Linked DNA regions of Homo sapiens. The protein of the gene in region 2 interacts with the protein of the main gene of each other region in a pairwise test. Each region holds a gene or a part of one and is shown on either strand. Other genes may lie near its edges.

What was found.
Region 1: the proteins of UBTFL1 (region 2) and TFIP11 interact in binary tests that used the Homo sapiens proteins (3 or more experiments, as listed by UniProt).
Region 3: the proteins of UBTFL1 (region 2) and OR5AS1 interact in binary tests that used the Homo sapiens proteins (3 or more experiments, as listed by UniProt).
Region 4: the proteins of UBTFL1 (region 2) and BEND3 interact in binary tests that used the Homo sapiens proteins (3 or more experiments, as listed by UniProt).
Region 5: the proteins of UBTFL1 (region 2) and RUNDC3A interact in binary tests that used the Homo sapiens proteins (3 or more experiments, as listed by UniProt).
Region 6: the proteins of UBTFL1 (region 2) and MTUS2 interact in binary tests that used the Homo sapiens proteins (3 or more experiments, as listed by UniProt).
Region 7: the proteins of UBTFL1 (region 2) and NACC1 interact in binary tests that used the Homo sapiens proteins (3 or more experiments, as listed by UniProt).

What each region holds. Positions count from the first base shown.
Region 1 is NC_000022.11:26,495,474-26,498,973, reverse strand, and holds part of TFIP11 (tuftelin-interacting protein 11), read left to right. Parts: coding exon 1-105; intron 106-2,084; coding exon 2,085-2,253; intron 2,254-2,657; coding exon 2,658-2,901; intron 2,902-3,500. UniProt on the Homo sapiens protein: Involved in pre-mRNA splicing, specifically in spliceosome disassembly during late-stage splicing events. Intron turnover seems to proceed through reactions in two lariat-intron associated complexes termed Intron Large (IL) and Intron Small (IS).
Region 2 is NC_000011.10:90,084,671-90,087,631, forward strand, and holds UBTFL1 (upstream-binding factor 1-like protein 1), read left to right. Parts: upstream 1-1,279; coding exon 1,280-2,461; downstream 2,462-2,961. UniProt on the Homo sapiens protein: Essential for proliferation of the inner cell mass and trophectodermal cells in peri-implantation development.
Region 3 is NC_000011.10:56,034,154-56,037,653, forward strand, and holds part of OR5AS1 (olfactory receptor 5AS1), read left to right. Parts: 3' UTR 1-3,500.
Region 4 is NC_000006.12:107,105,516-107,109,015, forward strand, and holds part of BEND3 (BEN domain-containing protein 3), read right to left. Parts: intron 648-3,500; exon of another isoform or gene 562-647; intron 1-561. UniProt on the Homo sapiens protein: Transcriptional repressor which associates with the NoRC (nucleolar remodeling complex) complex and plays a key role in repressing rDNA transcription.
Region 5 is NC_000017.11:44,315,101-44,318,600, forward strand, and holds part of RUNDC3A (RUN domain-containing protein 3A), read left to right. Parts: intron 1-54; coding exon 55-220; intron 221-351; coding exon 352-509; intron 510-1,284; coding exon 1,285-1,422; intron 1,423-1,518; coding exon 1,519-1,625; intron 1,626-1,936; coding exon of another isoform or gene 1,937-2,023; intron 2,024-2,384; coding exon of another isoform or gene 2,385-2,404; exon of another isoform or gene 2,405-2,761; intron 2,762-2,995; coding exon 2,996-3,138; 3' UTR 3,139-3,500. UniProt on the Homo sapiens protein: May act as an effector of RAP2A in neuronal cells.
Region 6 is NC_000013.11:29,502,339-29,506,447, forward strand, and holds the end of MTUS2 (microtubule-associated tumor suppressor candidate 2), read left to right. Parts: intron 1-654; coding exon 655-868; 3' UTR 869-3,609; downstream 3,610-4,109. UniProt on the Homo sapiens protein: Binds microtubules. Together with MAPRE1 may target the microtubule depolymerase KIF2C to the plus-end of microtubules. May regulate the dynamics of microtubules at their growing distal tip.
Region 7 is NC_000019.10:13,131,764-13,135,263, forward strand, and holds part of NACC1 (nucleus accumbens-associated protein 1), read left to right. Parts: intron 1-3,436; 5' UTR 3,437-3,444; coding exon 3,445-3,500. UniProt on the Homo sapiens protein: Functions as a transcriptional repressor. Seems to function as a transcriptional corepressor in neuronal cells through recruitment of HDAC3 and HDAC4. Contributes to tumor progression, and tumor cell proliferation and survival.

The DNA.
Region 1 (3,500 bases), on a different chromosome or scaffold from region 2:
CTGCACTTATGGCACCGAGATCATCTCTAAGTGGAAAAGCCTCCTAGAGAATGACCAGCTCTTGTCCCATGGCGGACAGGACCTCTCAGCAGATGCCTTTCACAGGTACACCACAGAGCAGGGCTCTGTACCCCAGCTCCTTTCTCCTGGGGGGTTGGGAAGGATTGCTGAAGGTGGGGGAAGGCAGCAGTGCTGGCCTTGATTAATTCTCTGCTCATGCTGACAGTGCTTTAGGAATTTAAATTCATTTGGCTATGAATTTTTTTTTTTTAATTTTTTTGAAATGTTTTATTTCCATAGGGTTTGGGGAACAGGTAGTATTTGGTTACATGAGTAAGTTCTTTAGTGGTGATTTGTGAGATTTTGGTGTACCCATCTCCTGAGAAGTATACATTGAATCCAATTTGTAGTCTTTTTTTTTTTTTTTTTTTTGAGATGGAGTCTCACTCTGTCACCAGGCTGGAGTGCAGTGGCGTGATCGCAGCTCACTGCAACCGCCAACTGCCTGGTTCAAGCGATTCTCCTGCCTCAGCCTCCCAAGTAGCTGGGATCACAGGCACACGCCACCACGCCCAGCTAATTTTTGTATTTTTAGTAGAGACAGGGTTTCACCATGTTGGCCAGAATGATCTCAATCTCCTGACCTCGTGATCCACCCGCCTTGGCCTCCAAAAAAATGCTGGGATTCCAGGCGTGAGCCACCGTGCCTGGTTCAATTTGTAGTCTTTTATCCCTCACCCCCTTCCCATCCTTTCCCCGAGTCCCCAAAGTCCATTGTGTCATTCTTATGCCTTTGCATCCTCATAACTTAGCTTCCACTTATAAGTGAGAACATAAGATGTTTGGTTTTCCATTCTTGAGTTACTTCACTTAGAATAATAGTCTCCAATTCCAACCAACTTGCTGCGAATGCCATTATTTCATTCCTTTTTATGGCTGAGTCATATTCCATTATATTTATACCACAGTTTCTTTATCCACTTGTTGATTGGTGGGCATTTGGGTTGGTTCCACATATTTGCAACTGCGAATTGTGCTGCTGTAAATTTGTGTGAGCAAGTATCTTTCTCGTATATGACTTTTTTTTTTTTTTTTTTTTGAGATGAAGTCTTGCTTTGTCGCCAGGCTGGAGTGCAGTGGCACGATCTCGGCTCACTGCAACCTCTGCCTCCCGGGTTCAAGCGATTCTCCTGCCTCAGCCTCTCGAGTAGCTGGGACTACAGGCGCTCGCCACCATGCCCAGCTAATTTTTGTATTTTTAGTAGAGACAGGGTTTCACCATGTTGGCCAGGATGGTCTCGATCTCTTGACCTCGTGATCCGCCTGCCTTGGCCTCCCAGAGTGCTGGAATTACAGGCGTGAGCCTCCGTGCCCAGCCATGACTTCTTTTCCTCTGGGTAGATACCCAGTAGTGGGATTGCTGGATCAAATGGTAGTTGTACTTTTAGTTCTCTAAGGAATCTCCACACTGTTTTCCATAGTGGTTGTACAATTACATTTGGCCATGAATTCAGCTGACACTTGTCAAATGTCTGTTGCGTATCATGCTTGTGCTAGGTGCTGGGCTTACCCTAGGAGCACAGCAGACAGCCTCTGTCTACAGTACAGCAAAAAAAGCAGATGGGAAGTAAGGTAGTGAACAAATAAAGGCAGGATGCACACCAGGTACAGCGATAGAGAACTGCAGGAGCAACCTACTTGGAACGGGGGTTGGCACAGAGGTCTTAGGGGAGGTGACGTTGAAATTGTGATAAGAGGGTGAGAGGCATCAGCTCATGAATAGAAGCCTATAGGTGGGAAAGCACTTGATACCTGGGAAGAGGCCCTTGTGACCCTAAAGCAGCTCTGCCAGGTGGATGGGCACTACCTAGGAGACTGAGGCCTCAGATTGAGAGGAGAGTCAAGAGAACAAGGAAGAGGCAGGCTCAGTCTGGCCAGTATGGTGACTGGCCTGATGGTTTCCTCTGATTGGATTTCCATGCTGTTGCATTTTTATTCCTGATTCTAGAGAGGCAGGTGGTGGTGGTGTACTTTGAAACCAGTCAGTGTAATTAACCAGCCTGTCCTCTGCCTTTCTCCCATAGGTTGATATGGGAAGTCTGGATGCCTTTTGTTCGAAATATTGTCACCCAGTGGCAGCCAAGGAACTGTGACCCGATGGTGGACTTTTTGGATAGTTGGGTGCACATTATTCCTGTGTGGATCTTAGATAACATACTGGACCAACTCATCTTCCCCAAGCTGCAAAAGGAGGTGGGATGAGAGTCATGGGAAACAGTCGTCATCACTAATCACAGGGACTTGTTCAGTCTGTGGCTTCATTATCTCAGTGCTGTTAAAACGCCTGGAATTAACGGAATTTGTCAACACAACTATTGACCTATAGTGTTAATTCCAGCCTTTTTCTCAGCACTTTTTCCCCCAAGCCACCCTCAGGAGGGAATTCATTTTCTTGATTTTGTCACTAAAATTAGAATTGTGCTGTTTCTGAGATGTAATCAAATGGATGGGCATATTTGTTTGGCAATGTACAAAGGACTGTGGGCCTCAGAGAGCACAGGGCCTCCTCCAGGGGCAGCTCTTGCCTTTAGCCACACAGGGGTGTTATGTGACTGCCCCACAGGCGACATGAACTGTTTCTCCTCCCCACTTCGCAGGTGGAAAACTGGAACCCGCTCACAGACACTGTTCCCATCCACTCTTGGATCCACCCATGGCTGCCCCTTATGCAGGCACGGCTGGAGCCACTCTATTCCCCCATCCGTAGTAAGCTGTCCAGCGCCCTGCAGAAGTGGCACCCCAGCGACTCCTCTGCCAAGCTCATCCTCCAGCCCTGGAAGGATGTCTTCACTCCTGGCTCCTGGGAAGCATTCATGGTCAAAAACATAGTGCCCAAGCTGGGTAAGGATAAGGGGAAATGCATTCCAAGCCCAGCAGCTTTGGTGCCCTGGTTTCTGTGGTTAGCAGTGATGATTTAAAGCATCGCCTTTATGTTCATGAAAGTGCTTAGTACACAATATTCCTTGCTGTGAAAAAGGTAACATTTTGTTCAGAGGCTGAACATAAATGTAACTTGGGTCCTTTCCGCTGTTTATTTACAACAGTCACTAATAGTCGACAGTGACAATATCGGACTCTGTGCCTTGTGGTTTTCCCGATTGGTTTTGGCTTCTGGTAATAGGACAGCCATTGGAGTTCTAAAATTTTTGTGGTATTTTACTCTAAATTATTAGGGAGTTATTTCCAGGTTAGCAAAAAAAATATATATACATACACACACACACACACACATATATGTATATATATACACACATGCATATACATGTATATATACACATGTATATACACATATATGTATATACACACATATATATGTATATATGTATACACACACACACATATATATATGTGTATATATATACACATATATATTTTAAGAATCGCTATGTCGGGAGCTTAAATTTGACCTTTAAAAGCAGATTACAGCCTGAGCAACATGG
Region 2 (2,961 bases):
GAATTACTTCAGGCAAGACAGAATTGCTAAAAAAAAAAAAAAAAAAAGGAGTAGTCATCAGATCTGCCACATTTTCAAGTTTTGTAATGGAAAATGGCAGGTATTCTGGAGGGAGTTTCTGGAGGAAGCCAAACTTTCACTGAGGCTTAAATATGATGAACAATTAACCAAATAAAGTTGAAATGTTTTATAATTGTCATTAAATCCTTGATATTTAAAAGGAGAAGCAGTATGGTTCTTAGAAAGCATTCATTCCCGGCCCAGGAGTGGTGGCTCACGCCTGTAATCCTAGCGCTCTGGGAAGCCGAGGCAGGCGGATCACCTGAGGTTGGGAATTCGAGACCAGCCTGGCCAACATGGTGAAACCCCATCTCTACTAAAAAATACAGAAAAATTAGCCAGTCGTGGTGGCACATGCCTGTAATCTCAGCTGCTTGGGAGGCTGAGGCAGGAGAATCACTTGAAGCTGAAAAACAGAGGTTGCAGTGAGCCCAGATTGCCCCACTGCACTCTAACCCGGGCGACAAGAGTGAAACTCCGTCTCAATTAAAAAAAAAAAAAAGAAATAAAAGAAAGCAAGAAAGCATTAATTCCCATGCACTGGTCCTGGAGAATCTATAATTCAGTCTTTTATCACAGGTTCACATTCCCTTATAAAAAGGTAACAGTTGGATGCATGTCTGGAGGAGCTCTTGGGCTTGTCCGATTGTATCTTTAACTTCTCATCTGCACCTTTAGCTATGGCTATTTGGGCTGTGCTTAGAAAATGGCCATACTCAGGGCACTGTAGAATGAACAGTCCTTCCTGTTTAGGCATTTCTCCTTCCACTTTAACTTCTGACTCTGTCTTCAGGGCATTTCTGTTATATTAAGCTTCTTAAGTGATGAGTGGTCTGGTGTTTGTGTTATGCAACTCAATTTAAGATAGGTTCATGTGAGATCTGGCAGAAAGCAGGCTGGGGTGGGGTGTGGAGATACTGAATATTGTGCATGTAGCATATGAAAGGCAAACATAAATTTAATTCAGAAACAGGCAATGTTTATTTATAGTTAAGGGTCAAATGAATTATACAAGGGACATATGACAAATAGGATGTAATTTGCTTCATTAATCCAAATGAAGGAGAGTAACTTTCTTTCTCCTCAGAAATACAGAATCACACATACTGCAATACTTCCAGAAATAAATCATCCACTGAGTCTTAAAAGTAAAGAACTCTGTGTTCTTGCTCTGGTGTCTACATAACCGGGATCTTATAAGTAAGCCAAAGACATCTAAATGGCTTTGCCTAGAAGCCAAGGCCATTGGTCCAACAAAGACATCTTGAGGTTACTGGAATGCATGGAGAATAATCGCCCATCTGATGACAACAGCACGTTTAGCTCAACTCAGTCACACATGGACTGGGGAAAAGTAGCTTTTAAAAACTTTTCTGGTGAAATGTGCAGACTCAAATGGTTAGAGATTTCTTGCAACTTGAGAAAATTCGGCACTTTGAAAGAATTAGTCCTGGAAGCTAAGAAATGTGTTAAAAAGATGAACAAAAGCCAAAAATACAGGAACGGTCCAGACTTTCCAAAGAGGCCCCTTACTGCTTACAATCGCTTCTTCAAGGAGAGTTGGCCCCAGTACTCCCAAATGTACCCTGGGATGAGAAGCCAGGAACTGACCAAAATCCTGTCAAAGAAATACAGGGAACTCCCAGAGCAGATGAAACAGAAATATATTCAGGATTTCCGGAAGGAAAAGCAAGAATTTGAGGAAAAACTTGCTCGATTCAGGGAAGAACACCCTGATTTAGTCCAGAAGGCCAAGAAATCTAGTGTCTCCAAGAGGACTCAAAACAAAGTGCAAAAGAAGTTTCAGAAAAATATTGAAGAAGTGAGGTCTCTTCCAAAAACGGATCGATTTTTCAAGAAGGTAAAATTTCATGGAGAGCCTCAGAAACCCCCCATGAATGGATACCACAAGTTTCACCAAGATTCCTGGTCAAGTAAAGAGATGCAACATTTGTCAGTGAGGGAGCGCATGGTAGAGATTGGCAGACGCTGGCAGCGCATCCCGCAGAGCCAGAAGGATCATTTTAAGAGCCAGGCTGAGGAGCTGCAGAAGCAATACAAGGTGAAATTGGATCTCTGGCTCAAGACTTTGTCACCTGAAAATTATGCTGCATACAAAGAATCGACCTATGCTAAGGGTAAGAATATGGCCATGACAGGAGGCCCGGACCCCAGGTTGAAACAAGCAGATCCACAGTCCTCATCAGCAAAGGGTCTGCAAGAAGGGTTTGGGGAGGGGCAAGGGCTCCAGGCTGCAGGAACAGATTCATCACAGACTATTTGGGTAAACTGTCATGTCTCCATGGAACCAGAAGAGAACAGGAAGAAAGATAGAGAAAAGGAAGAAAGCAGTAACTCTTCAGACTGCAGCAGTGGAGAAGAAATAGAAGTTGATGTCTGAGGGCAGTGGCTCTAGTGCAGCTTCCTTGTTTTTTTTTTTTTGTTTGTTTGTTTTCTTTTCTTCCTTCCTCCCGCAAAGTAGGACAGGTTGGGAAGAAAGAAGCAACTTGGTGCAGCACTCTCCTACATCAAGATTATGAACCTGGGAGGAACTCTTTGGGAAGAATAAATATAAGTTTGAGCCAATACTGGCCTTATCCTTAAAAAAACAAACAAACAAATATCATCCCTTTCCCGAGGAACTTTATGCAATTAAGGCTTCTGAAATGAAGAGATGATTACGTTGTGGGGTACACACTGTATTAGACTGAATATTTCTGAAGCAAGAAGCTTTGCTTTACTCATTTTTGTCCTGCCAAAGGTGGTAGGGGGATACCCATAAGCCTGGGACCCAAACTTCCCTGTGGAAATGTTTTTCAGGACTCCTGCACTAAATCTAAGGTCGGGGATATTTGATGAAAGGTGGGGTAGGTGTCTTAAGAGAATTGTCCCACTCTTGAT
Region 3 (3,500 bases), about 34 Mb from region 2:
AAAAGGCTGAAAATTTCTAAAACCAGACATCTCTTCTCCCACAAAGGATCACAATTCCACGCCAGCAAGGAAACAAAACTGGACAGAGAATGAGTTTGATGAATTGATGGAAGTAATTGGGTAATAACAAATAGAAGAATTGGGTAATATCAAACTCCTCTGAGCTAAAGGAGCATGTCCTAACTCAATGCAAAGAAGCTAAGAACCTCGAAAAATGGTTAGAGGAATTGCTAATTAGAATAACTGGTTTGAAGAGAACATAAATAACCTGATGGAGCTGAAAAACACAGCACGAGAACTTCATGAAGCATACACAAGCATCAATAGCCAAATCGATCAAACAGAAGGAAGGATATCAGAGATTGAAGATCAACTTAATGAAATAAAGCTTGAAGACAAGATTAGAGAAAAAAGAATGCAAAGAAATGAACAAAGCCCCCAGGGATTATGGGACTATGTGAAAAGAGCAAACATATATTTGATTGGTGTACCTGAAAGTGAGGGGGAGAATGGAACCAACTTGGAAAACACTCTTCAGGATATCATCCAGGAGAAACTCCCCAACCTAACAAGACAGGCCAACATTCAAATTCAGGAAATACATGTAACACCACAAAGATACACCTCAAGAAGAGCAACCCCCAGACACATAATCATCAGATTCACCAAGGTGGAAATGAAGGAAAAAATGTTAAGGTGTTAAGGACAGCCAGAGAGAAAGCTCACATTACCCACAAAGGGAAGCCCATCAGACTAACAGCGGCTGTCTCAGCAGAAACCCTATAAGCCAGAAGTGAGTGGGGGCCAATATCCAACAGTCTTAAAGAAAAGAATTTTAAATGCAGAGTTTCATATTCAGCCAAACTAAGCTTCATGAGTGGAGGGAAATAAAATCCTTTACAGAAAAGCAAATGCTGAGAGATTTTGTCACCACCAGGCCTGCTTTACAAGAGCTCCTGAAGGAAGCACTAAACATGGAAAGGTACAACTGGTAACAGCCACTGCAAAAAAAACAAATTTTAAAGAACATTGACACTACGAAGAAACCACATCAGCTAATGGGCAAAATAACCAGCTAGCATCATAATGACAGGATCAAATTCACACATAACAATATTAACCTTAAATGTAAATGGGCTGAAAGCCCCAGTTAAAAGCCACAGACTGGCAAATTGGATAGAGTCAAGACCGATTGGTGTGCTGTATTCAGGAGACCGATCTCATGTGCAAAGCATACATAGGCTCAAAATAACGGGATGGAGGAATATTTACCAAGCAAATGGATAGCAAATAAAGAAAAAAGAAAAAAAAAACAACAAAGCACAGGGGTTGTAATCCTAGTCTCTGATAAAACAGACTATAACCAAAAAAGATCAAAAGAGATAAAGAAGGCAATACATAATGGTAAAAGGATCAATGCAACAAGAAGAGCTAACTATACTAAATATATATGTACCCAATACAAGAGCACCCAAATTCATAAAGCCAGTTCTTAGAGATCTATGAAGAGACTTAGACTAACACACAAAAATAGTGGGAGACTTTAACACCCCACAGTCAACATTAGACAGACCAAGACAGAAAATTAACAAGGATATTCAGGACTTGAACTCAGCTCTGGACCAAGCAGACCTAATAGACCTCTACAGAACTCTACACCCCAAATCAATAGAATATACATTATTCTCAGCACCACATTGCATTTATTCTAAAATTGACCACAATATTGCAAGTAAAATACTCCTCAGCAAATGCAAAACAATGGAAATCATAACAGTCTCTCAGACCACAGTGCAATCAAATTAGAACTCAGGATTAAGAAACTCACTCAAAACCACACATCTACATGGAAACTGAACAACCTGCTCATGAATGACTACTGGGTAAATAATGAAAATAAAGCAGAAATAAATAAGTTATTTGAAACCAATGAGAACAAAGACACAAGGTATCAGAATCTCTGGGACATAGCTAAAGCAGTGTTTAGAGGAAAATTCACAGTACTAAAGGCCCACAAGAGAAAGCAGGAAAGATCTAAAATCAACACCCTAACATCACAATTAAAAGAACTAGATAAACAAGAACAAACAAATTCAAAAGCCTCAGAAGACAAGAAATAACTAAGATCAGAGCAGAACTGAAGGAGATAGAGACATGAAAAACCCTTCAAAAAATCAATGAATCCAGGAGTTGGTTTTTGGAAAAGATCAACAAAATAGAAAGAACACTAGCCAGACTAATAAAGAAGAAAAGAGAGAAGAATCAAATAGACACAATAAAAAATTATAAAGGGGATATCACCACTGTTCCCACAGAAATACAAACTACCATCAGAGAATACTATAAACACCTCCACACAAATAAACTAGAAAACCTGGAAGAAATGGTTAAATTCCTGGAAACACACACCCTCCCAAGTCTAATCCAGGAAGAAGTCAAATCCATGAATAGACCAAAAACAAGTCCCAAAATTGAGGCAGTAATTAATAGCCTACCAACAAAAAATAGTCCAGGACCAGCCAAATTCTACCAGACATACAAAGAGGAGCTGGTACTATTCCTTCTGAAACTATTCCAAGCAATAGAAAACGAGAGGCTCCTCCCTAACTCATTTTATGCGGCCAGCATCATCCTGATATGAAAACCTGGCAGAGACACAGCAAAAAAAGAACATGCCAGGCCAATATCCCTGATGAACATGATGCAAAAATCCTCAAAAAATACTGGCAAACTGAATTCAGCGGCACATCAAAAAGCTTATCCACCAATCAAATTGGCTTTATCCCTGGGATGCAAGGCTGGCTTAACATACGCAAATCAATAAACGTAACCCATCTCATAAACAGAACCAATGACAAAAGCACATGTTTATCTCAACAGATGCCGAAAAGGCCTTTGATAAAATTCAACACCCTTCGTGCTAAAAACTCTCAATAAACTAGGTATTGACAAACATATCTCCAAATAATAAGAGCTATTATGACAAACCCACAGCCAATATCATACTGAATGGGCAAAAACTGGACGCATTCCCTTTGAAAACCGGCACAAAACAATGATGCCCTCTCTCACCACTCCTATTCAACATAGTATTGAAAGTGCTGGCCAGGGCAATCAGGCAAGATAAAGAAATAAAGGATATTCAAATAGGAAAAGAGGAAGTCAAATCGTCTCTGTTTGCAGATGACATGATTGTATATTTAGAAAACCCCATCGTCTCAGGCCAAAATCTCCTTAAGCTGATAAGCAACTTCAGCAAAATGTCAGGATACAAAATCAATGTGCAAAAATCACAAGCATTCCTATACACCAATAACAGACAAACAGAGCCAAATCGAATGAACTGCCATTCACAATTGCTACAAAAGAGTGTAAAATACCTAGAAATACAACTTACGAGGGATATGAATGACCTCTTCAAGGAGAACTACAAATTAGTGCTCAAGGAAATAAGAGAGGACACAAACAAATGGAAAAACATTCCATGCTCATGGATATGA
Region 4 (3,500 bases), on a different chromosome or scaffold from region 2:
CTGGGAGTGGCCCGGGGTACCTTTCTATCAAGTTCTTTGAATAGTCAGTTGCTGTGGAGAGAGCAGACAGACCAGGTCTTTTGGGACAGCAGCGTGAGCCTAATCAGAGCTGCCAGAGGCCTGTGGGCCGGGGAGTCACACAGGACAAGCGGCAGGCCCAGAAATGGGAAGTACTTGGGCTTCCTGCAACCTGGAGGTTCAAATTCCAGCCAGCTGACTCCGGATTTTACCCTGCTAGATCAGAGATGTCCTCGCCACTGTGCTGAGGTGCCAGTCCAGGAAGACCTGGCCCCAGCAGCCCTGACCTCATGCCACTCAGGGGCAAATCCCCCTTACCCCTAAGAGCTGTTTCCAGATGCAAACTGAAGCAAACTCTCACTACCAGAAGATTCCCTTGAGAATGTGGGCCCCAGAACAGGAATGTGATTGGAACCTGAAACAATAGGGATGGTGGCTGTGTGGCCCCTGCCACACACAAAAGGTAAAGTGGAGAGAATATGCTCAGTCATTAACAAAACAAACTCAAGGATTTTAAAAATTTAACCAAGACCTAAACCTTACTTCAATCTTTTCACAATTGCCATATGTCTGATTTGATTTCAAGGAACTTCTCTGCTACAGGTGACATTGACTTCTAAAAATTAAACCTAGAAGAGGGGGACAGTAGTTAGTATTCATGTGGCACAGGCTTCATGTTCTAAGTGTTACATATGTCAACCCACACAGTCCCCACCAGCACTGCTTCTTGTGCAGATAGGGAACGGGGCGGGGGTGGGGTGATTTGTGCTGCCCAAGGGATGCAGCTGAGACCAGGGAGTAGGAAGGACTTCAGGAGACTCCCGGCATGAGAGCTTCATTCCAGCCTTCCAAGGAAGCTGGGACTGAGGAATGGGCCATGACCTCCCAGCTTTCTTTCCCTCTTCCTGCTAAGCTGTGAGCTGGGTGCAGGTGCATGAGCAAGTCAACAAGCCAGATGGGCCAGTCTGTGACCAAGGCAGGAATTAGTGCAGGTGACCCTCCAAAAAATGGAATTCTTTACTAAACTTTGGAGTCAGATGGAACTGCATGAAACCCTGGCTTTTAATCCAGTTTTTTCATTTTTTTTTTCCCCAGAGATGGGGGTCTTGCTCTGTTACCCAGGCAGAGTGCAGCAGTATGATCAGAGCTCACTGTAGCCTTGAACTCCTGGGCTCAGATGATTCTCCCATCTCAGCCTGTGAGTAGCTAGGACTATAGGTGCACGCCACCACACCCAGCTAATTTTTTATTTTTTGTAGAGACAGGGTCTCCAGGTGTTGCCCAAAATGGTCTCAAACTCCGGGCTTCCAGCAACCCTCCGGCCTCAGCCTCCCAAAGTGCTGGGATTTCAGATGCAAGCCACCACACCTGACCCTTAACCCAGCCCAGTTTTCAAAGAGGGCTTTTTTTTTTTTTTTTTTGAGACGGAGTCTCGCTCTGTCGCCCAGACTGGAGTGCAGTGGCACAATTTCGGCTCACTGCAACCTCTGCCTCCCGGGTTCAAGTGATACTCCTGCCCCAGCCTCCCAAGTATCTGGGATTACAGGCATGCACCACCACATCCGGCTAATTTTTGTATTTTTAGTAGAGACAGAGTTTCACCATGTTGGCCCAGCTGGTCTGGAACTCCTGACCTCAGCTGATCCACCCGCCTCGGCCTCCCAAAGTGCTGAGATTACAGGTATGAGCCACTGCACCCAGCCCAAAAAGGTTTTTAACCGAGTTAAAATATTTAGCATCTAACACCAGGCCAGCTGTTTACCTACCCATCCAAGCTGTATTCTGTAATAGGAGCTGGACACATCTACCTCACCTCAAAAAGTTTTTGTGAAAACTACAAAGGAGAAAGTGTCTGACACATAGCACTCAAAGTTACCTATTATAAAGCTTCTTTTTTTTTTTTTAAGGAAAAGATGTTTAAAGTGCATTTTATTTTTTTATTTTTTTGAGACAAAGTCTCATTCTGTCGCCCAGGCTGGAGTGCAGTGGCACAATCTTGGCTCACTGCAACCTTTGCCTCCTGGGTTCAAGCGATTCTCCTGCCTCAGCCTCCCAAGCAGCTGGGATTACAGGTGGGCACCACCATGCCTGATTAATTTCTGTATTTTCAGTAGAGACGGGGTTTTACCATGTTGGCCAGGATGGCCTTGAACTCCTGGCTTCAAAGTTCCACCTGCCTTGGCCTCCCAAAGTTCTGGGATTACAGGTGTGAGCCATCCCGCCCAGCCTAAAGTACATTTTAATAGTGAATTTTTAAGAACTGCAAATTAAATAAAATGGCTTAAAAGATTAAAAAGGTTTAGTAACTTTTCTTTCCAATGAAACATAGAAACTGGAGGGAGGGGGATGAAACCAAATAAAATGCTCTCCCTGAGGACAGGAGGAATGTTCCCATGCCATCCACTCTGGTGCCGCGGGTCTCTGGGTTCACAGGACCGGCTGGGAGCCTCAAGGGTCTCAGGACCCAGCCCCCTTGGCAGTGGCATCCTGCCCAAGGGACTTGCAGGACATGTTCGCAATTTGTTTTTATTTTTAGGCACATCTGCAAATGCAGTTTGAAAAATACCAGTCCTCACAAAACCAGGGCAATTTTCCCCAGAGTTTTTCTAAAGCTGTAATTGTAGCTGCCTTCCTTATTCAGTCAGAGCACAACCTCATCTTCCGCATGCAGCCAAGCACAGCCGCACAACCCTGCCCGCGCGCCTGTGATTTGGCGTCTTAATCTTTGGTCACTTGCGTCTTCTGAGTCTTGAGTAAATGTGCCATCTTCCTCAGCTAAGAAGTTCCACTTACGTTCTCCCCAACCTCGTGGAGGGCTACCTCCTCACATGGCTCACAGGAGACTCTGCGTATTAACCTTGGCATGCAGAAGCTGAGGCTCAAGGTGGAAGGAGGGACCGCACATTCCAGCATCCAGCCATGTGACTGACTGCACAACGGTGACTAATTTTCCTAGGAGGTATAAGCTGAGTTTCCGCTGCACTTCCCATTTTATCAAGTGTTTTATTTTGTGACCACACAAGCTGATTAGGGTTCGGGGCAGTTGGGTGTATACTGCACCCCCAATCCTAAGCAAGCCTCAGTCCTTCGCTCTGCTAGCTCCATGCTCAAACCAAAACAGCCCCTGACATACAAGAAAAGGCCAGTAAATGACTTATTCAATTGAGCAATCAATGCCCTGATACTGATGCAACTGTGTTTCACTAGTCAGAAATAACTGAAAATCAGACAAGAGGAGAGGTGGCCACAGGTAGAAAAAAAATTAAGAGGGTTGATTGATTGATTGATTTGAGATGGAGTCTCGCTCTGTTGCCCAGGATGGAGTGCAGTGGTGCGACCTCGGCTCTCTGCAACTCTGCATCCCGCGTTCAAGCAATTCTCCTGTCTCAGCCTCCCGAGTAGCTGGGACAACAGTCATGTGCCACCACACCTGGCTAATTTTTGTATTTTTCACTAGAGATGGGGTTTGGCCATGTTGGCCA
Region 5 (3,500 bases), on a different chromosome or scaffold from region 2:
AGACGCGCGGGGGGAGGGGCGGGACCGGCCGTGCCCACTGCTCCCTCTCCCAAGCTACGACTACCTGACGGACGAGGAGGAGCGGCACAGCGCCGAGAGCAGCACGAGCGAGGACAACTCGCCCGAGCACCCGTACCTCCCGCTCGTCACCGATGAGGACAGCTGGTACAGCAAGTGGCACAAGATGGAGCAGAAGTTCCGCATCGTCTACGCGCAGAAGGTGCGCGACGCCGGCGGGCCCGGGGGGCGGGCGGGCCGGGCGGGGGATCCGGGCATCCCGGGGCGGGGCGGGGATGGGGGCCGCGGCCGGGACGTCCTCCCAGCCGCCCGGGCTGAGCCGGCGCCCCGCAGGGCTACCTGGAGGAGCTGGTGCGTCTGCGCGAGTCGCAGCTGAAGGACCTGGAGGCGGAGAACCGGCGGCTTCAGCTGCAGCTGGAGGAGGCGGCGGCGCAGAACCAGCGCGAGAAACGGGAGCTGGAAGGCGTGATCCTGGAGCTGCAGGAGCAGCTGTGAGCGCACGGCCTGCCCTAACCCCTGACCCCCGCCGCCCCGACCACATCACCGGGTGAACCCCATCTTCACTTCCATCGACTCTAACATCACCCGACACGAGCACCCACCTCTCCAGCATCAACCCTCTGATCCAGCCAGCCCCACCCCGAGATGCCCACAATGATCTTCTAACATTGCCCCCAGCATAAGATCCAGTGACTTCCAACAGCCAGAGCCCACCCTTCACCTTCAGTTATCTTCCGCTAGAGTGGCCATCCAACCTTACTGCAGGGACCCCACGTCACTCACAAGGACCTGCGGTGTTGCTCTGCAACCTTCAACACGATTGCATTCATCGCCTCACTCACCTGCACCACAGGCTCACTGACCGTCATCATCCGCCGTGACCCCCGACCTCACCCCTGCCGATCCCTGTAACACTTCTTCTCTACGCCTTTCCACCACCCTGATCTTGCGGCAAGATCCCCAAGACGATCTTACACTTCAGGGATTCCCACACTATCCTCCACTGACGTCCCCATCACCCCAGCTGACCCCAACAACACTGCACCATTCCCTCCAACTCCCAATATTTGTGCACGAATCCCTGTCACCCCTCCACCCCAGTACCACCTCCACTTCCTCCCGGGATCTGGCCCACTGACCCCAACACCGTATCCCCATTTTTGCCGCTCAGATTTCATTCCTGACCCCTCCCTCATCCCCTTGCTGAATCTCCCTTCCTCACTTCTCCTACTTCCAGCCAGGCCTGACTCCTCCTCCCCCTCCCAGGACAGGTCTGATCCCCAGTGACCACGCCCCTCTGGCCCAGGGTTCCAAGGAGCTCACTACACCCCTGGTCAATCAATGGCCCTCACTGGGAACGCTTAATGGGGCCGAGGGCGCCAGCAACTCCAAGCTCTACCGGAGGTAAGCCCCAGCCAGGTGGGGCTTGGGCCTGAGAGCGGGTCGTCCTGGGGAAGAAGGGCTTCCTCTACCGGCGCACCAGCTCTCGCTCTGCCGCAGACACAGCTTCATGAGCACGGAGCCGCTGTCAGCTGAAGCCAGTCTGAGCTCGGACTCCCAGCGCCTGGGAGAGGGCACGCGGGACGAGGAGCCCTGGGGTCCCATCGGTGAGCTCCCCCAACCCAACACCCAGTACCCCTCCAGAAAGGGCTGAGGCAAGGCCCTGAGGCCTCAAGGCATGTCCTCATTCATTCTCTTAGTCTTTTTTTTTTTTTTTTTTTTGAGACGGAGTCTCACTCTGTCATCCAAGTTGGAGTGCAGTGGCGCAATCTCAGCTCATTGCAACCTCTGCCTCCCGGGTTCAAGGGATTCCCTTGCCTCAGCCTCCCGAGTAGCTGGGATTAAAAGCGCCTGCCACCACGCGCAGCTAATTTGTGTATTTTTAGTAGAGACGCGCGGCTAATTTGTGTATTTTTAGTAGAGACGGAGTTTCGCCAGGCTGGTCTCGAACTCCTGACCTCAAGTGATTCACCCACCTTGGCCTCCCAAAGTGCTGGGATTACAGGTGTGAGCCACTGTGCCCGGCCTCTCTCAGCCTTTCTTGAGGGTTTAGCACAGCAATCGAGAGCTTACTTTGAGGTGGCAGAACACAGCATATGCAGAACCCAGCATAAATCTGGCTGTGCCTCCTCTGACCATGTGAGCTTGGTCAATCACTTTACCTCCATGAGTCTATTCTTTGTAAATGGGGATGTTGATAATCACCAATGTTGTCACATGGTGAGGGCTCAGTGGTTTTTTAGTGTCATGACATCCTCGGGGGCTCACAAACTCTCGGGGAACTCCTTAGACTAATTTGCTCTTATCTCATGCACACTGTGAACTACTTGCCTGACCATTGTTTCCCCCTTCTCTTTGGCTGCCAGGAAGCTCAGAGCCAAATTAGTGGCTCCCTTCGAGCGAATGCCCAGGACTTCAACGCATGCACTTTGTGTTGACCTCATCCCTGGCTTCACCTTGGTTTTTCCCATCCTAGTTCTCCCTATGCCTGAATATCCTGTCTTTTCTTTTTTATAAGCAACCACACTGTATTGGATGACCCTAGATCTTCTTTGAGACAAGGCAGGCTGTGGCCATGTAGCCCCATCACACTGTGTTTGTGATTGTCTGTGTGTCTGTCTCCCCCACCAGACTGTGAGCTCCATGAGGGCAGGGACCGTGTCTTGTCCGTTCTCTGTATCCCCAGTGCTTGGAACAGAGCGAGTGCTCACTGTGTATTTAATAAATGGACAAAGAGAGAGGATGACCCTCACGGGGAGACAGAGACATCAACTGACGATTACAATACAGTGTCCCCAGCACGGTGCCTGGCACAGGCAGGTGCTTAACCAAAGTTTAACTGAAAATGGCAAATGCTGTGGAATATGCCAAGGTCTCCTGGGGGGTGACTTGAGGGCTGCCCCTTCACTGCCCACCCCTCTACCAACTCCCACACATGTAGACTGGTCGCTTGGCCTCACCTGCCCTCTCTCCCCAGGGAAGGACCCCACGCCCTCCATGCTGGGCCTCTGCGGCTCCCTGGCCTCCATTCCCAGCTGCAAGTCCCTGGCGAGCTTCAAATCCAACGAGTGCCTGGTGAGCGACAGTCCCGAGGGCAGCCCAGCACTGAGCCCCAGCTGAGGAACAGCATGGGCAGTGCCAGCCCCACCTGCCAGGGGCCATGGACACCTGCCACCTTTCTTCAACAAGAGTCCCCCAATCCAGGCTACCCTTCCAGAGAACGCTACCCACCCAGCCAGGGTTCTCTCGGGGAAGATCTCGTCTGCTCACCTTAGCTTTCTGCCTTGGCAGCACGGGCTGCGGAAGAAAGCACGCTGGGCCAGGAGGCAGGGGTGCCCAAGCCACAGGGAGCCCCTGGGGAAGCCTGCTCCATTCTTCTGGTGACCTTGGCGCTCCTTCACTCATCTCCCCTGCCCCCTCAGGAACTGGTGGCCCAGCTTCCACACCCCCACCTCCCAGTCTCTAGCCTCTCCATCTGTCTG
Region 6 (4,109 bases), on a different chromosome or scaffold from region 2:
TTTCACCCACCAGCCTTTATCGGCAAACATTAACTGAGCATCTGTTACGTGCCTAGCACCAGCTGGATGCTGGGAGTTCAGCATGCAGAGCCTTGGCCTCTGTCCTCCGGAGCTCCCAGTCTAGCAGGCAGACACAGACCCCTAGAGCAGCATTTCCAGCAGGGGAGGACACCTGCCATCGTGGAGGCACAAGCCTGGGGCAGGGAGGCCAGGAGAAGGCACCCCCAGCTTCCTGGCAGTCTCAGGAAGGCCCGCGGCTCTTCACTGCTATTGTGCTGTTGTCATTGTCAATTGCCAGCTGCGCGGCTGTCTCTCCTTTCGGAGCTTCCGGGCAGCATACCCACTCCAGCTCTCCGCTTCCCTCCTTTCAGTCGCTGGCCTTTGCTCTGTCCAGTGGACAGCCAGTGCCTCCCCTGACCGGGCAGAGGGCCTGTGGGATGATGGGTATTGGCCAGAGAGGCTCTGGGAACAGATGTGTCATTGGGCCAAATGGAAATCATGATTCAACCAAAGTTCTTGGTCACTGGGTCACCCTGGTCCCTGTTCTCCCTGCGGTCATCATGGCCTCCTCCCTTTGCCCTGCACCATTGTCCTGACCTCAGGTTCAGTGTCCACTAGCATGATTGCTACTTATTTGTCATTGTGCCCATGCAGACAGCTGTCGGAGGAAAATGCTAACCTCCAGGAATATGTTGAGAAGGAAACCCAGGAGAAGAAGAGATTGAGCCGAACCAATGAAGAGCTGCTTTGGAAGCTCCAAACTGGGGACCCGACCAGTCCGATTAAACTCTCGCCCACATCTCCCGTTTACCGCGGCTCCTCCTCGGGGCCCTCCTCTCCGGCCAGAGTCAGCACAACACCCAGATGACGCCACTACACGGCCTGCGGGAGCTCCGGCTTCTCGTCCTCCGGTCTCCACCCTGAGGGAGCACCGACCCGGTGCCGCCGGAGCTGGCCCTGTGCGCATGCTCAGTAGCTGCGAATGCATCCTAGGCGCGTCCTCCTCTGATCCCCGTGTAAGACTGCCCTGGTGTCGGCACTTAGGAATGTGTAAATGGTAAAGTCTGATGTGCAAACGTTTTACCATAGTTAGAGCCAAAAGAAAGACACTTGCAATTGTTCTTGAGCAATGAACTTTCACTGCAGAATTTCAGGTTAGTTACAAAAAGCTCAGTTTTCAATATACATTGAATAATCATTGTGTACTGCACCGATATGTGTGTATATTTAGATATACGTATATACACATGCTGCGGTTCTGAATTTCATTTTTTATAACATGAAGTGCTGACATATTTTAGTGAAGGTCAGCAGTTTTCTAACTTGTGCCTAAGAATTATTGGGAAATGAAAATGCATTTCTATCTAGCTTCCCAGGAATATTTCTACCCAAAATAGAAAAAGGAAAAAAAAAAAGATACAGAGAAGAAGCGCCTTTCAACTCACCACCAAGTGGTACTCTCTTTAACACGAACACCAGCTATTTGTGAACGGTAACTGCCTTTGGAACAATCAGCTTCTCAGTCAACATGATGTGAGATCACTATTATTCCATTCGCAAGTTTTAATTATTGATACTCCTGTCATGAGCGGATAAGGGAGAGCAGTGGGAAACCCTAAGGGGGTTTAGCAGTTTTGCAGATGTTACCCATGACAGTGACTCATCTCTGATAGTCTTGTAAACACAAGTTTTGCTTTTTTCCTAAATGGCATCTCAGACTCGGTCATTAAGCTATTGTTGCACCCTCCGGAAAACATGGCAGAGCATGACCTTTGAGTAAGAGTGAGGATGACCTTGCAGATGACTGTGCCCATTCGCGCTCCATCCTCATGAAGGAAATTGCTGCCAAGGTCTGTATTTTGACCAGGCACAGAGGGGGAACATCACTCCAGCTTTCCATGTGGTTCACTCTGATGCGATGCTGTAAATGATCAACTCTTTGAAATAGGACCCTCAGGCCCCCATTTCCTAGCAGCCCCCCTTCAGTTTGGTTCTACAACTCAACCCCTTCACTGCACATTGAGATGGCTCAGGGGTTCTAGCAGGGGCTTCCAGAAAAAAAAAACACCATTTCTGTCCCGGGGGACCAGTTCTGAGCTGTGCTAGATCATCACACGACCACCCAGAAACCCACTTGCACTTCCTGCTGGATGATCAGGCAACGCTGCTGCTGACCGTGCTCCCATCTTAGACCCAGAAGGTTCTCCCAAACAGAGGAGCCCAGTGAAACAGCCAGCCAGGGGGCACCAGCTCCTGGACTGGCATCTGTCTCTAAAATGGTAGAATTAGGATATGAACAGTACTCATGTAGTGGTGTGGAAGATTAGGAGCATGATACACAAAAGGAAGAAGTAGTTTTAACAGATATGGTGATGATGATGATGCCCTTGTTTCCTGTATGTGACAAAGACCCTGCACTTTCTCCCTGAGACCCCCCCAAAATTGTCCTGAGCACAGGCCTGTCTTTGAGCGTGCCCAAGGCGAGAAGAACCATGAGGGGGTCCTGCAGGGGCCGGAGCCATGGAACGGGGAAGAAAACAGCCCGCGGACGGGGTCGGCTTGTCCAGGGCACGCCTGCTCGGCACACGTGTTGCCAACGTGAAGGCAGACATGGTCCCTGGCCCTAGGATGAGTCCACGCTGGGCTTCCGGGCCTCAGGTGCATCTCCAGCCAACCTCCAAGGGTCTTGCTCCTTCTGGGGACGTACACAGTAAATCCACATGGAAACACCACCATTTCTCTTTGCTTTAGTGGCTCTGCATGATACTGTGATATTGAGTTGGGCATTCCATTAGAGTAGATCTTGCCACATTGACTAAATACACAAGTATTTATTCTAGTAGCAGGCACAACCTGCAAACACAAATTCAGTTACAGCTTAGCTGTCCGAATTAGGAACCGCTTACATAGCCGCACCTGCTAAATGCAGTTACACAGCAATACTGACTTCCGTGTGATGCTAGAACGTGGTACAGTGTATTAGGCTGCTGTGGTCAGAGTTGTAGCATCGTTAGCACTAAGTAATTCCTCATTAGGTGGACTTCGGTGAGAGCTTTGCCCTAACCTGCCCTGACCTTGGGTACTTGAGCTAATTTCCACGTGGCCCTGGCTTCGTGGTTTGTTTGTTTTTTTTCTTTTGTTACGGACACCCATCATGTATGGCTCCTCATCTGAGCCATCACCGCTCCCGAAACACATGGGGCGGCAGCTGCTGTGCCTCCTTCTCAATTCTTCCACCCCCCCACACCATCAGAATTCGGATTTCTCTCCACGTGGCGTCTGCCTCTGTCCCCTTCCAGGCTGGAGCGACGTTTCCACGTTCGGATGCTGCAGCCTCTGCACCTGCCTCAGACAGACCCACCAGATACCACCTGTCTCTTCGTGGCATTTGGGAGATGCGTGGGCGGCCTGCCCCCCGACCGCCGCCCCTGCCCACCACATGCTGGGACAAGGTTCTGGCTGGATGTCAGAATGGATGGGGGTGGGGGCAGCCCTGGCCGTGATTAGTTGAATGAATGGGGTCACAACATCCCTTTTCCTGCCCCTACAGTTTGTGTTGCATATTTGTGTTTAAAGCCTATTAAAATAAACTTGAGGGACTTTCTGCGATATCTACTTGATGTAACTGGAGACCTGTCCCTCTCAGGCTGGGGATCCCAGGCAGGGAGGCAAGGGGGGTGGCGTTTGCAGGCTGGACCCCTTTTCTGTGTGTGCCGGGGTTGGGTGATGGTCCGTGAGAGAAGTCTTGTAGAGACCCCCTCTCCCCTGACTCCGCAGGTCCCAGGTCCCTGCGCCCACCCCTCCAGCCTGGGGGCTTGAGCAGCCCCTCCCCTGGACTTGGGAGCTCAGTGCCTCTGCTCTGCAAGGCCGGGTGCGCTGGAGTTGGCTGGAAGGAGGACATAAAAGGTCATTCACTCATTTCAACCTGAAAGTGCTTGCTCCCCCCATCCCGATGGCCTTCAGTTTGGGCTGCAGCCGGTTTAGCCAGCTGGACCTCGAAGTGTCCCACAGGTGTCTGGCACCATCACAAGGGAGACAGCTGGGTTCGCAGGTTCCCTGTGGTGGTTTTGCAGGGTCTGTGGGAGTGGCAGCTATTTCAGCGAGATCAG
Region 7 (3,500 bases), on a different chromosome or scaffold from region 2:
GGTGCCTAGGCAGACCCTGGTTTGAATCTTGGCCTTACCACTTTTTGCATGTAAGTGGTAGGGGCAGCAGATAGCTCAGGACATATCTTGGGTTTTTTTGTTTGTTTTTGTTTTGAGACATAGTCTCACTCTGTTGCCCAGGCTAGAGTGCAATGGCACAATCTTGACTCACTGCAACCTCCACCCTCCCGGGTTCAAGTGATTCTCCTGCCTCAGCCTCCCGAGTAGCTGGGATTACAGGCACCGGCCACCACACCCAGCTAATTTTTGTATTTTTAATAAAGATGGAGTTTCACCGTGTTTGCCAGGCTGGTCTCGAACTCCCGACCTCAGGTGATCCACCTGACTCGGCCTCCCAAAGTGCTGGGATTGGCCAGGTGTGGTGGCTCATGCCTGTAATCCTACACTTTGGGAGGCCAAGGCAGGTGGATCATTTGAGGTCAGTAGTTCAAGACCAGCCTGGCCTATGTGGTGAAACCGCATCTCTACTACAAGTACAAAAATTAGCCGGACATGGTGGCACACGCCTGTAGGCCCAGCTACTCAGGAGGCTGAGAATCACTTGACCCTGGGAGGCGGAGGTTGCAGTGAGCCGAGATGGCACCACTGCACTCCAGCCTGGGTAACAGAGCAAGACTCTGTCTTAAAAAAAAAAAAAAAAAAAAAAGTGCTGGGATTACAGGCTTGAGTCATCCCGCCCTTCAGGACATATCTTTTGAATTTTGAACCTGGTGAATGAATTTTTAGATGACCTCAGGACAGTCCTCAATTTCCACATGACCTCAGTTTTTCCAGCTTTGCAAGGGGAGTATGAAACCAGCCCTGAAGTCTTGCTAAGAGGATTCGGGGAGCTCATAGAAGTTGTGAGTTGGTTCCTCCATTCGCCTGGGTGTTGTAAGGGGCAGGGCCTGTGTCTTGCTTGTGGCCTGCCAGGGTAGCAGCTCAGTAAGTGAGATGGTATCTCACTGTGGTTAGGATTCACATTTCCCTGATGACTAGTAATGTTTCCGTGTAATTTCTTGAATGATCATTCAGTAACAATAAGTGTAGGTTGAGTTTGTAGAATCAGGTTGACCTCCTCAGCCTCGATTTCCAAATGGAGAAAGCAGAGATTTGGAGCTCCTGGTCAGAGGAGCAGGTCGGTGCTGGAGCCAGGACTCAACCTTAGGTTGTACCTCTGAGCCTTTGAACACTTGCCGTTTCTATTCCTCACAGCAGCCCTTTCAGACGGAACGGGTGTTACCAGATTAGGAGGAGAGTGGCCACTGTATTCTCAGTGCCCAGCCCAGGGAGGCAGATCTGAGTGGAGTTGCTAATGAAACATGGAAGGTGCTTGAGAGCTAACTGGAAGGGAGGGAAGGTGTGCATTCCTGCACCAGGGCCTTTGCATGTACTTGTTACTTTCTCCTGCTGGCCAGCTGGAGTGTCTGGAAAGATCTGCCTTACTCAGGGAAGCCTTCTCACTCGCACTCTGCCCAGTTAGGACCACTGCCCTCTAGAGACCCTATAGAATTACAGAGGAGGCCGGGCGTGATAGCTCACACCTGGAATCCCAGCACTCCAGCCTGGGCGACAGAGTGAGACTCCATCTCAAAAAAAAAAAAGAAAAAAGAATAAACCCCACACACCTTTGCCTTCCCTTTGCTTTCCCTCACCACACCCCCATTCTCCCCGCCTCCCAGCCCCTGGCAACCACTAATCTGCCTCCTGTCTGCGTGGATTTGCCTGTCCTGGACATTTCCTATAAATGGATCATACAATCTGTGGTCCTTTTGTTTGGCCTCTTTCTGTTGGAATAATCTTTTCCAGGGACATCCATGTTGTAGCATGTGTCAGAATTTCCTTTCTTTTTATAGCTGAATAATATCCCATTGTATGGACTGACCATGTTTAGTTGGCCCATCCATCCGCAGATGGACGTTTGGATTGTTTCCACCTTTGGGCTATTGTGAATAATGCTGCTGTGAACGTTTGTTTACAGGTTTTCAATGCAGGCAAATGTTTTCGTTTTTCCTGGGCATAAATTCCAGGAGTGGAATCGCTGGGTCATATGGTAACTCTCTTTAACCGTTTGAGGAACCGTCAGACTGTTCTCCATGGTGGCTGTGCCATTTGACATTCCCACAAGCAGTGGAAATGGGTTCTGGATTTCTCATCCTCACCAACTTTTTTGATTCCAGCCATCCTAGTGGGTGTGAGATGGTGTCTCATTGTGGTTAGGATTTGCATTTCCCTGATGATGTTTTCTTCTAATTTCCCTGATGACTAGAGATGTTTTCATGTAAGTTATTTATTTATTTATTTATTTTTGAGACAGTGTCTCTGTCTGTATCCCAGGCTGGAGTATAGTGGCGCAATCACAGCTCACTGCAGCCTTGACCTGGGCTCAACAACAGATCCACCCCCCACCACACCCTCCCTAGTAGCTGGGACCACAGGTGTGCTCCACCATGCCGGGGTAATTTTTGTATTTTTCGTAAGAGGCAGGGTTTCACCATGCTGCCCAGGCTGGTCTCAATCTCCTAGGCTCAAGTGATCCACACGCCTTGCCCTCCCAAAGTGCTGGGATTACAGGCATGAGCCACTGCACCCAGCCTCATGCAATTTCTTTTTCCTTTTTTTTTTTTGAGACAGTCTTACTCTATGCCCCAGGCTGAAGTGCAGTGCCACAATCTCGGCTCACTGCAACCTCTGTCTCCTGGGTTCAAGTAATTATCTGGCTTCAGCCTCCCTAGTAGCTGGGACTACATACCCACACCACCTTACCTGGCTAATTTTTGTATTTTTGGTAGACAGGGTTTTGCCACGTTGGCCAAGCTGGTCTCGAACTCCTGGCCTCAAGTGATCCGCCTGCCTCAGCCTCCCAAAGTGCTGAGATTACATGAGTGAGCCACTGCGCCTGACCTCATGTAATTTCTTGAGTGGTCATTTAGTCATTATACAAACAGTGATTGAAGGGCATGTGCCCAGCACTGCAGACTCTGCTGCACAGTCAGATGACCCTGCCTTTCTGGCATTTCCATGCCAGTACCCTGAAGAGATACCATATATGTACCTGGTGCTTGCAATAGCTGGCACTCAGAGGTAGCACACTGTGTCCTAGCCACTCTTCCGAGCACTTAAGCATATTCAGTTACTCTTCAAGTACATATGAATAAGTATGCCTTTGCCCCCTCCTCTTTGCAAGGGATAGCGTGTGGCCACCCTGGTCTGCAGCTAGCTTAGCAGATTTGACCACATATTGTAAAAGTGAGTCTGTACCAGGACAGATAGGGTAGAGGGCTCTGTGTGGTTTAGCACCATGGTAGATTCCATCGTGCGGATGTCCCTCCAGCAGGGGAGGTCTTTGGGGCCAGGGCTAGGCCAGCACCCACATTTGCCGCCTGACCCCGTCCCTCCGTCTCTGTCTCTCCATTCCTCCCTGCCCCTCGTGCAGCCGCTGCCATGGCCCAGACACTGCAGATGGAGATCCCGAACTTCGGCAACAGCATCCTGGAGTG